Linked DNA regions of Homo sapiens: region 2 is linked to region 1. The links come from fine-mapping of genetic effects on gene expression. A gene starts in region 1. The other region holds a variant in brackets. All regions are shown on one strand. Distances are between the middles of the regions.

What was found.
Region 2: its variant is fine-mapped to the expression of CCDC3 in lung (GTEx, PIP above 0.99).

What each region holds. Positions count from the first base shown.
Region 1 is chr10:13,000,046-13,004,437 of GRCh38, reverse strand. CCDC3 (coiled-coil domain containing 3) reads left to right here and starts at 2,725. Exons shown (of 3, transcript NM_031455.4): 1 at 2,725-3,241. The coding sequence starts at 2,868. RefSeq lists enhancers at 2,595-3,095, 3,096-3,596.
Region 2 is chr10:12,908,067-12,912,402 of GRCh38, reverse strand. The region is part of intron 2 of CCDC3 (coiled-coil domain containing 3); the gene reads left to right. It overlaps LOC105376418 (a long non-coding RNA gene), which reads right to left. Exons shown (of 3, transcript XR_001747367.3): 2 at 4,000-4,054. Among named protein-coding and RNA genes, the nearest start is that of CCDC3, 91 kb to the left of the region's middle. The variant T/G (reference allele first, on the strand shown) is at 2,273.

The DNA of each region.
Region 1 (4,392 bases):
TTTCCCATAGTGATGTTTCTGATCAATGATTCCCACAGCATTGCTTCTTTCACAGCAATGAAGTGCAGCAGTGGTCTCAAGGCCATAGAATTAACTGGTTTTACCACATGTCCCATCACCTGGAAGCAACTGGACAAATTTTGAAGGATGTAACAGTTTAGTGAAGACTTAATTATAGTGTCAGTTGGGAGTCACCACACTGAAATGATGGAGTCCATCTTAAAGTGTACTTACTGTGTGTGCTTTGAAACAGAACATACATATACGGTACTATCCACCCCACAGCCAGGACATATAGGTCTCGGAATCAAGAGATGGAAGTGGCTCATGTCACTATTAAACCCAATAATTCACTCACAGAAGTTTTGTTTCCCCTCCTGGCTACCTTGAGCTCTGCTTGTTTGGAAGTCTTAGTCCCCAAAGAGGAACTGCTCACTACGGTACACTGCAATGGCTCAATCAGGAAGAGAAACCCAATCAGTGAGGCACTCTGCCAGATCTTACAGGGGAGAAAAGCATGACTGATGTGTCTGCTGAATCCATGAGGACGATTTCTTGCAGGTGCTCACTTCTGCAAAATACACTGTGGGAAGTATTGGAAGAGTTTTGATTCTGTCAAGTTTATACAACAAGAGAAAAAACAGCCATGTTTGCTGATTTTTATTTATTTGCTCACCTATGTGGAAAGAAAAGAGAGGGCCTTACAGTCTTTTGGGGTAGACAAATCTTTTCCAGGCCTTCAAGACACTTGAAGATGCAGTTAGTAAGAAAAACTTTCTTACTATCTTATCTGATGAGTTACAGTATAGGACTAAAATAGAGCAGGGATTCTGGGTCATACAAAATTAATGTTAGGTCAGTTGCACACTCCTTGAGCCATCATTGGTGACTCTGCTAAGGTTTTCTCTTAATTTGCTCTGTGTATATCCTGGTTAAAGGGCCGACCTGTGTCTTTAGAGCATTTCCTATATTTGGCCCTATTCTAGTGTTGTAGTTAAGTACATGGATCTGGAGTCTGATTGCTGGGAGCTGAATCCTAGCTTGGTCAACTTGTAGCTTTGTGATCTTTGGTGTCAATTAACTTCTCTGTGCCTGTTATCTGTAAAATGAGGATAATAGTTATATCTACTTCAGAATATTGTTTGGAGAATTTATTAAGATGACATATGTACAGTCCTTACAACAGTGATTGGCCCATGGTCAACAATGACTAAGGTTTAGCAATTCTTATTATAACTTGGCAGTGTGTGCTGTGAGTCTGCCTGCCAGGAATATAAACCATTTGGGATCCCTGCTCTCTTTCTCTAGCAAACCTGCAGAACACCTGCTAAATAGCTCATATAGACTGAATTATGTCTCCCCTCCCACCTCCAAATTCATATGTTGAAGTGCTAACTCCCTAATGTGACTGTATTTGGAAATAGGGTCTTCAGGCAGGTAATTAAATGAGGACATAAGGGTGGGGTGATAACCCCATAGGACTAGTGACCTTGTTAGAAGAGGAAGAGACCAGGGCTCACTCTTTCTCCATCACACACAGAGAGAAGGCCACGTGAGGACACAGTGAGAAGGTGGCCGTCTGTAAGCCAGGAAGAGAGGCCTCACCAGTAACCAACCCTAGCACTTTAATCTTGGACTTCCTGCCTCCAAAACTCTGAGAAAGTAAGGTCTGTTATTTAAGCCACCAGACTAGAGTATTTTATTATGGCAGCCCTGGGAGACTAATAGCATTATGAAATTGCATAATTTAAATATTCAGGGTGGATGTGGGGGCTCACGCCTGAAAGTTCAGCACTTTGGGAGGCTGAGGTGGGAGGATCGATTGAGCCCAGGAGTTTGAGACCAGCCTGAGCAACATAGCCTGTCTCTACTAAAAACAAAAAATTATCCGGGGTGGCAGTGTGCTTGTATTCCCAGCTACTTGGGAGACTGACCTGGGAGGATCACCTGAGCCCAGGGGAGGTCGAGGCTGCAGTGAGCCCTGATGGAGCCACTGTACTCCAGCCTGGGTGACAGATATAGACCTTGTCTCAAGAAAAAAACAAAAAACAAAACAAAAAACCTGTTGCCTTTAGAGATAAAGATGGAACTGTGGAGTCAGTATCCTCAAATTCACTCACTGATGTGAAAAGCTGTTTGGGATTTACTTCTGAATGTATTTCTCAGGTGTACAGTGTTTAGAAAATGGAATCAGGGATTATGGAAACCAAGAAAATCAGGGCCAAATGATTGCTTTTTGGAATCTTTTATCAAAGCTTTTCTAAGATCTTCATTAAATAACTAGCAAATCTGAGAGAGCACGAGATCTCAGCCCACACTGAATTTCCTAATCTCTGGGAATATAAAGTCAGATTTGGTTTCTATGTATTTTTACTCTGAAATGTAGAGAAAATGTAAAAACTTAGGCAGTAATCGTGCAAATTAAGAGTCATTCTTTAATGAATGCCTTGCGTTTGCAAACAGGCTTTACGCCTGGCAAGCTCGGACCACGTCCATCGTGGGGCGCCAGGAGATTGCTGGGCCACTGTCCCCAATTCAGGGCTGGGTCCCGGCGTCCCCGCGTTCTCCGAGTCCCTGGTCCCCGCCCCAGCCGGCGCCGGGACCCGCCCGACTCCCCGCCCCTCCCCCGCCCACGCCCCAGCCGCAGGGGGCAGGGCGGGAGGCGGGCGCCCGGCGCGTCCAGTCCCCGGGACCCTTTTAAAGCGTGGCGCGCCAGGGCCGGGCATGCCGAGCCCCGTGGCGGAGACAGCGGTGCGCTCAGCTCCCGGGAGCGGCCCGAGCAGCCGAGCGCCCAGGGCTGCCCTTCCCGGGCCGGCGGGCTCCCCGGGCTCCCCGCCGCCGCCCCGTGCGCCCCGGGAGGGCCCGGCATGCTGCGCCAGCTGCTGCTCGCCGCGCTCTGCCTGGCGGGTCCCCCAGCGCCCGCGCGCGCCTGCCAGCTGCCCTCCGAGTGGAGGCCCCTGAGCGAGGGCTGCCGCGCCGAGCTGGCCGAGACCATCGTGTACGCCAGGGTGCTGGCGCTGCACCCCGAGGCGCCCGGCCTCTACAACCACCTGCCCTGGCAGTACCACGCCGGCCAGGGGGGCCTCTTCTACTCGGCCGAGGTCGAGATGCTGTGCGACCAGGCGTGGGGCAGCATGCTGGAGGTGCCCGCCGGCTCCAGGCTCAACCTCACCGGCCTGGGCTACTTCTCGTGCCACTCCCACACCGTGGTCCAGGACTACTCCTATTTCTTCTTCCTCAGGTGAGCCCGGCGGCGCCGCCGCCACCTCTCTCTCTCTCTGCGCCACCTCCCGAGGTCGCCGTTACCTAGAGCCAGGCCGGTAACTCCCCGGGCAGCCTGTCGGTGTCAAGTGAGAATGCCCCTGGGGCGCCTACCCCTTGCCTTCTTGGATCTTTCTTGCTCCGTCTGACGTCTCTACAGACATCCTGACTACCCCTGGTTAAGGCGGTTTAAAAGACAGGGAAGGTTTCTGTGCCTTGTACACAGAAGAGCATTGCAGACAGAAGCTCAAAGCGCCCTCCAACAGTCCCTTTGACTTGGGTTTTTAAACTGGCCTCAGTGGGAGTAGATTGGGACGGTGAGAAAAACAATCTTTGAAATCAGTCTGTGGCTGGCATTTTGGCTCTGCCCTTCCTAACCGTGATTCTGAGCGCATTTCTTGACACCTTCTCAAGAACTTCCATAGCCTCACCTGTGTAAAGTGAGAGACAGGGCTGGTTGAGTGAGGAACGTAACTCATGCAAAGCACCTGGTGCAGGTTAGAAGTTGACCAGCTGTCCACTCTCTCCTCTTCCTCATTTGCTCAAATGCCAAGATGTGAATGGTGTGGAATGTAGCCCGGGATTGCTTCACTGTCTCATATCAGCTGCCAGGTTCTTTGAAATAGCAAAGGTTTACTAGGGCTTGGGGTTCTGCTGCTGGTAAAATCCTGGGTAGCAATGCTTTGAGGAGTGGAGAGGTGAACCAGGCCAGGAGGTCCTCTTTGATTATAGACCACTGGAATCTTCTGAAGTTCCATGAACTTCAGAACTTGGCCTGTGGTCAAGATGGAATGCATCTGCCTAAGAATTCAGTCAATTCTCATTGACTACTGAATTCTTCTGAAATTTGAATAGAGAGTGCCAGGTAGAACTCTAAATTCTTTGGTTAGCTTCAGTTGGAATTTGGAGAGTGATATAAAACAACTGAGAAAAACATCAAAATGGAATCTAACCTATCTATCAAGATAGTAAATTAATCCACTGTTGGGGTGATCGGTTGTAGTTCGTTTTCCCAGTCTGGGAAGTAGCACTGAGGATATTTGGAATGAGGCTGACGTGGGTCTGCAGATTCACTTTTAGCTCGCATTTCTCTGAGAAAGAAAACAGTTCTACAAAGTGGTGTTTGTAAGT
Region 2 (4,336 bases), 92 kb after region 1:
ACAGGTATATTTAGAAATGTTCAACATCACTAATCAGGGACACGCAAATTAAAATGAATATGAGATATCATCTCACACCCGTTAGAAGGGCTATTACCAAAAAGACAAAAGATAAGTGTTGGTGAGGATGTGGAGTAAAGGGAACCCTTGTGCACTTGGTGGGAATGTAAATTAGTAATTATGGAAAACTGTATGGAGTTTTCTCAAAAAATTAAGAACAGAGCTACTGTATGATCCAGCAATCCCACTACTGGGTATACATCCAAAGTCAGTATGTCGAAGAGATATCTACACTCCCATGTTCACTGAAGCATTACTTACAATAGTCGAGATAGGGAATCAAACTAAAGTGTCTGTCAATGAATGAATCGATAAAGAACATGATGTGTATATACTCAGTGGAATACTATGCACCCTTAAAAAAGGATATACCATCATTTGTGACAAAATGGATGAAACTGGAGGATATTAAGTGAAATAAGCCAGGCACCAGTACTGCATGATCTTATTAATATTTAAATGTAGAATCTAAAAAAAATGAGCTAAAAGAACCAAAAAGTAGAATGGCAGTTACCAGAGACTTGGAAGGGGTATTGGAAGATGCTGTTCAAAGGGTACAATATTTCAGTTACAAGGAATAACTTCAGGAGATCTAATGGACATCATGGTGGCTACAGTTAATAACAATACAATGTATGTTTGAACATTGTTAAAAATAGATTTTAAGTGTTCTCACTACAAAAAAATGGTATGTGAGGTGATACATCGTTAATTAGCCATGTCAGTGTACACATATTTCAGATCACGTTGTACATGTTCAATATAAATTTTGTCAATTTAAATATTTTTAAAATGTTAAAGTAAATACAGTGTTTATAACCAGGTTTAAGAAATCATGCCACTAAAATAGAAATGCAAGTTGTCTTTGAGTGGTGAGATTATAGGTGACTTTTTCCCATTTCTCATTAGTTTATAATTTTCAAAAAAACATTAGCGTATATTAGCTTTAGAATGTGTTATTTCATTCAGCAGTGACTCTGTTGAGGACTTACTGTGTGTCAGGCACAGTATTAGGCACTAGGGCTATGGCAGTAAAAACCAGAGATAGAGTCCCCGTTTTTTAGTCTAGTGGAAGAAAGAACAAATTAGCCATTAATAAGGAAATCCAACAATGTTATAAGGCACTGAAGAGAAGCAGGTGATGCAACAGCCTCATTAGGAGAGGTGACTTATGGGGTGACAAGGGAACACATCTGCAGAGATGACACAGGAACCAGGATGAGAATGAACCTGCCTTGCAGAGTCATGGAATGGCCTTCCAGAAAGATGGAACAGCAAACTGTTGAAGAGGTCGCTAAGAATAACTGTGGTCGTTTATAGAATGGAACAGTAATTCAGACATATTTAAAATTCTCACAGATAATATTCATTTCACAGGGGCTGGCCGCAACTATGCACTGGGGAGGATTCTGTAATTATACTGCCTTCCACATATAAATTTTGCCCTTGGCCGGGCTCTGTGGCTCACACCCATAATCCCAGCACTTTGGGAGGCCAAGGTGGGTGGATCATTGGAGGTCAGGAGTTTGAGACCAGCTTGGCCAACATGGTGAAACCCTGCCTCTACTAAAAATACAAAAATTAGGGTGCCTGTAGTCCCAGCTACTCAGGAGGCTGAGGCAGGAGAATCGCTTGAACTCGGTAGGTGGAGGTTGCAGTGAGCCAAGATCACGCCACTATATTCTAGCCTGGGCAACAGAGCAAGACTCTGTGTCAAAAAAAAAAAAAAAATTTTTTTTTTTTTTTTTGCTCTGACTAGTTATTGAAACTTGCAAGTTTGCAAGGACTTGTGCCAGATACCAAGCCAGGAAGGACAATCCTTGAATTGGCAGAAACACGTATCATTGTGCTTGTCATCTGTTGTTTATAGGTTTTCCAATAATATTTTTACCAAATAAAATATTAACTGAGAATTTATTTGGGGACATATGGTTATGGACTGAGTCTGGCAATATGTAGCAGCAACTGCATTCGACATTGAATGGCTTTAAGGCACACCAAATACACCATGCTTTTTCTCATTATCAGTATCTCTGCCTTAAAAAGGAAAACAGCTACGTAGCCAGCAAGCGGCACAACCACATTTGAAGCAAGGTCTTGCTAAATTGCACCCACAGCTCTTTCCAATCCAAGGAGAGTCAGCTCTAGGGCTATCTCAACTCCAGGGCCACCTGTCTTGGTTCAGTAGCAGAAAAAAGCCTGTGTCTGGGTT[T/G]GATAAATTCTCCCAAATAAACAGACTCTTAGCTGAAGCAGGACCTGGATGTGGCTGTGTGGACAAGTCATCAGTCTCTGAGAAGTAAACATGAACATGATCACAGCTCATAAATTCCCATCGCATTCCCCGGGAGGGCGGATGGCCAGGAGCCCTTGGGGTTTTCAGCCAGTACTGAGGATACAGGCACACACCCCAGCCCTTGGGAGGAAGGTGGAGCCTGGCCTTTCACTGCCTTTTTCAGTTGAAGAGCTGGAGACTGGCCCCTAATTACCCAATACCCTAGACCCTGAAAAGTACCCCATGGAAACCAGCATCAGATTAGAGATGGGTCAGGTGGATAGCACCAGTGGGGAGGGAGCAGGACAGCTTTGGCTTTGGGTCAGTGCCTGTCTAGGATCCCCCTCCTTGGGAGACCTGGTACCCTGCACCGTTAGTCCACGGTTCAGCCTTCCACTCTCCACAGCCTCATTGCTTTGCCCTGACACCGGAAGGGAGAGCCTGACTTCAGAGCCCTTCCGGCACTAAGCACAGGGGTCCACAGAGCAAGGGGTAAGCTTTGACTGGGCCAATGACCTGTTCTTCCCTTGGGCAACAGCAATGACCCAAGACATGGAGCTTACAGAGCTGATGGGGGACACAGTGCACCTCACTCAGCCCGGGTTGGCACACCCACACTCCATGGGCAGGGCAGGAGTAAGCATGGCCCCCGGGTGCCCCACTGGCAGCCACCTGTCAACTGCTGGGCACGGTGGGGAGAAGATAACATCATCAGGTCCTTTTGCCCTTCCTCCCCTGCAGCCTGGGATGCCACGGAGGCTGAGCATACACACATCTGAGGGCCGATGGTCAGTGGCCATGAATGTCACTCTTCCTTCCCAAGGGAATGCCTGCATCAGCCAGGCTGTAGTGCCCTTATAGCCCTCCTGCTGTTTTCAAGGGAGAGAATTAACTGGCCGTGACTGGCTAAGGACTGAGGTGCCCAAGGAGGCTTTGACTAAACAAGCAGAGGCATCCAAGGTTGGAAGATGTCTTTCAGATGCTGTAACTCACAGGACCATGAGTGTCCAAGGATACCAGGAAGATGGAGCCTTGCATCTAGACCAGAGCCCCATCCACTGTGATGTGGATTTTCTGGGATCCTGAAAATAAAAGTAGAACATCTTCCTTCCCACTACACCTGGACACCTTCTCTGCACTCACCATGGACAGTGGTCAGCATTAAGAAATCACAGTTCTGGCCAGGCGCCGTGGTCCACACCTGTAAACCCAAGCACTTTGGGAGGCCAAGGCGGATGGACCACGAGGTCAGGAGTTTGAAACCAGCCTGGCCAACACAGTGAAACCCTGTCTCTGCTAAAAATACAAAAAGTAGCCGGGCATGGTGGCATGCACTTGTAGTTCCAGCTACTTGGGAGGCTGAGGCAGGAGAATTGCTTGAACCTGGGAGCCGAGATCACACCTCTGCACTCCAGCATAGGCAACAGAGGGAAACTCTGTCTCAAAAAAAAAAAAAAAGAAAAATCACAGTTCTTAGCCAAGAATCTGTGATTTCAGCACCCTTCTACCCCTTGGTAGTTCTAGAAAAAGGATTTAGAGTTGAAATCAGTATTCCATGACCTAGTGTTTCCCAGGCTTCTTTGTATCACAGACTAGATAAAATGTTTGCAAAACTCCCTGGGAGAAACACAGGAGACCGCTCGTAACTGAGCAGCCTTGACACTCACTCTTGTAGTCTATTCTTGCTGCATGTTGGAGATCTCCACCAGAGACCGATGAGATCTGGGGTAAAACAAAGTTAGAGAGGTTTAATGCAGGACCAATGTGCACAGCTGATACTAAGTGTTACATCACAGAGGAAGCCATAATATGCAGCATTTCTGAAACTTTTTTAACCAGAACCACCCTTTTGGTCCCCACGTAAACATCTAATGAGACGAGTGTCCTGGAGACTCCATTTTGGGAAACCTTTGTAGTAGATTTATCTGAAGACGTGGCTTTATGATCTCTGTAGTAGAACTTAGCTAATAAACTCCCCTTTCCTCTGATGGCAGGCAATTCACC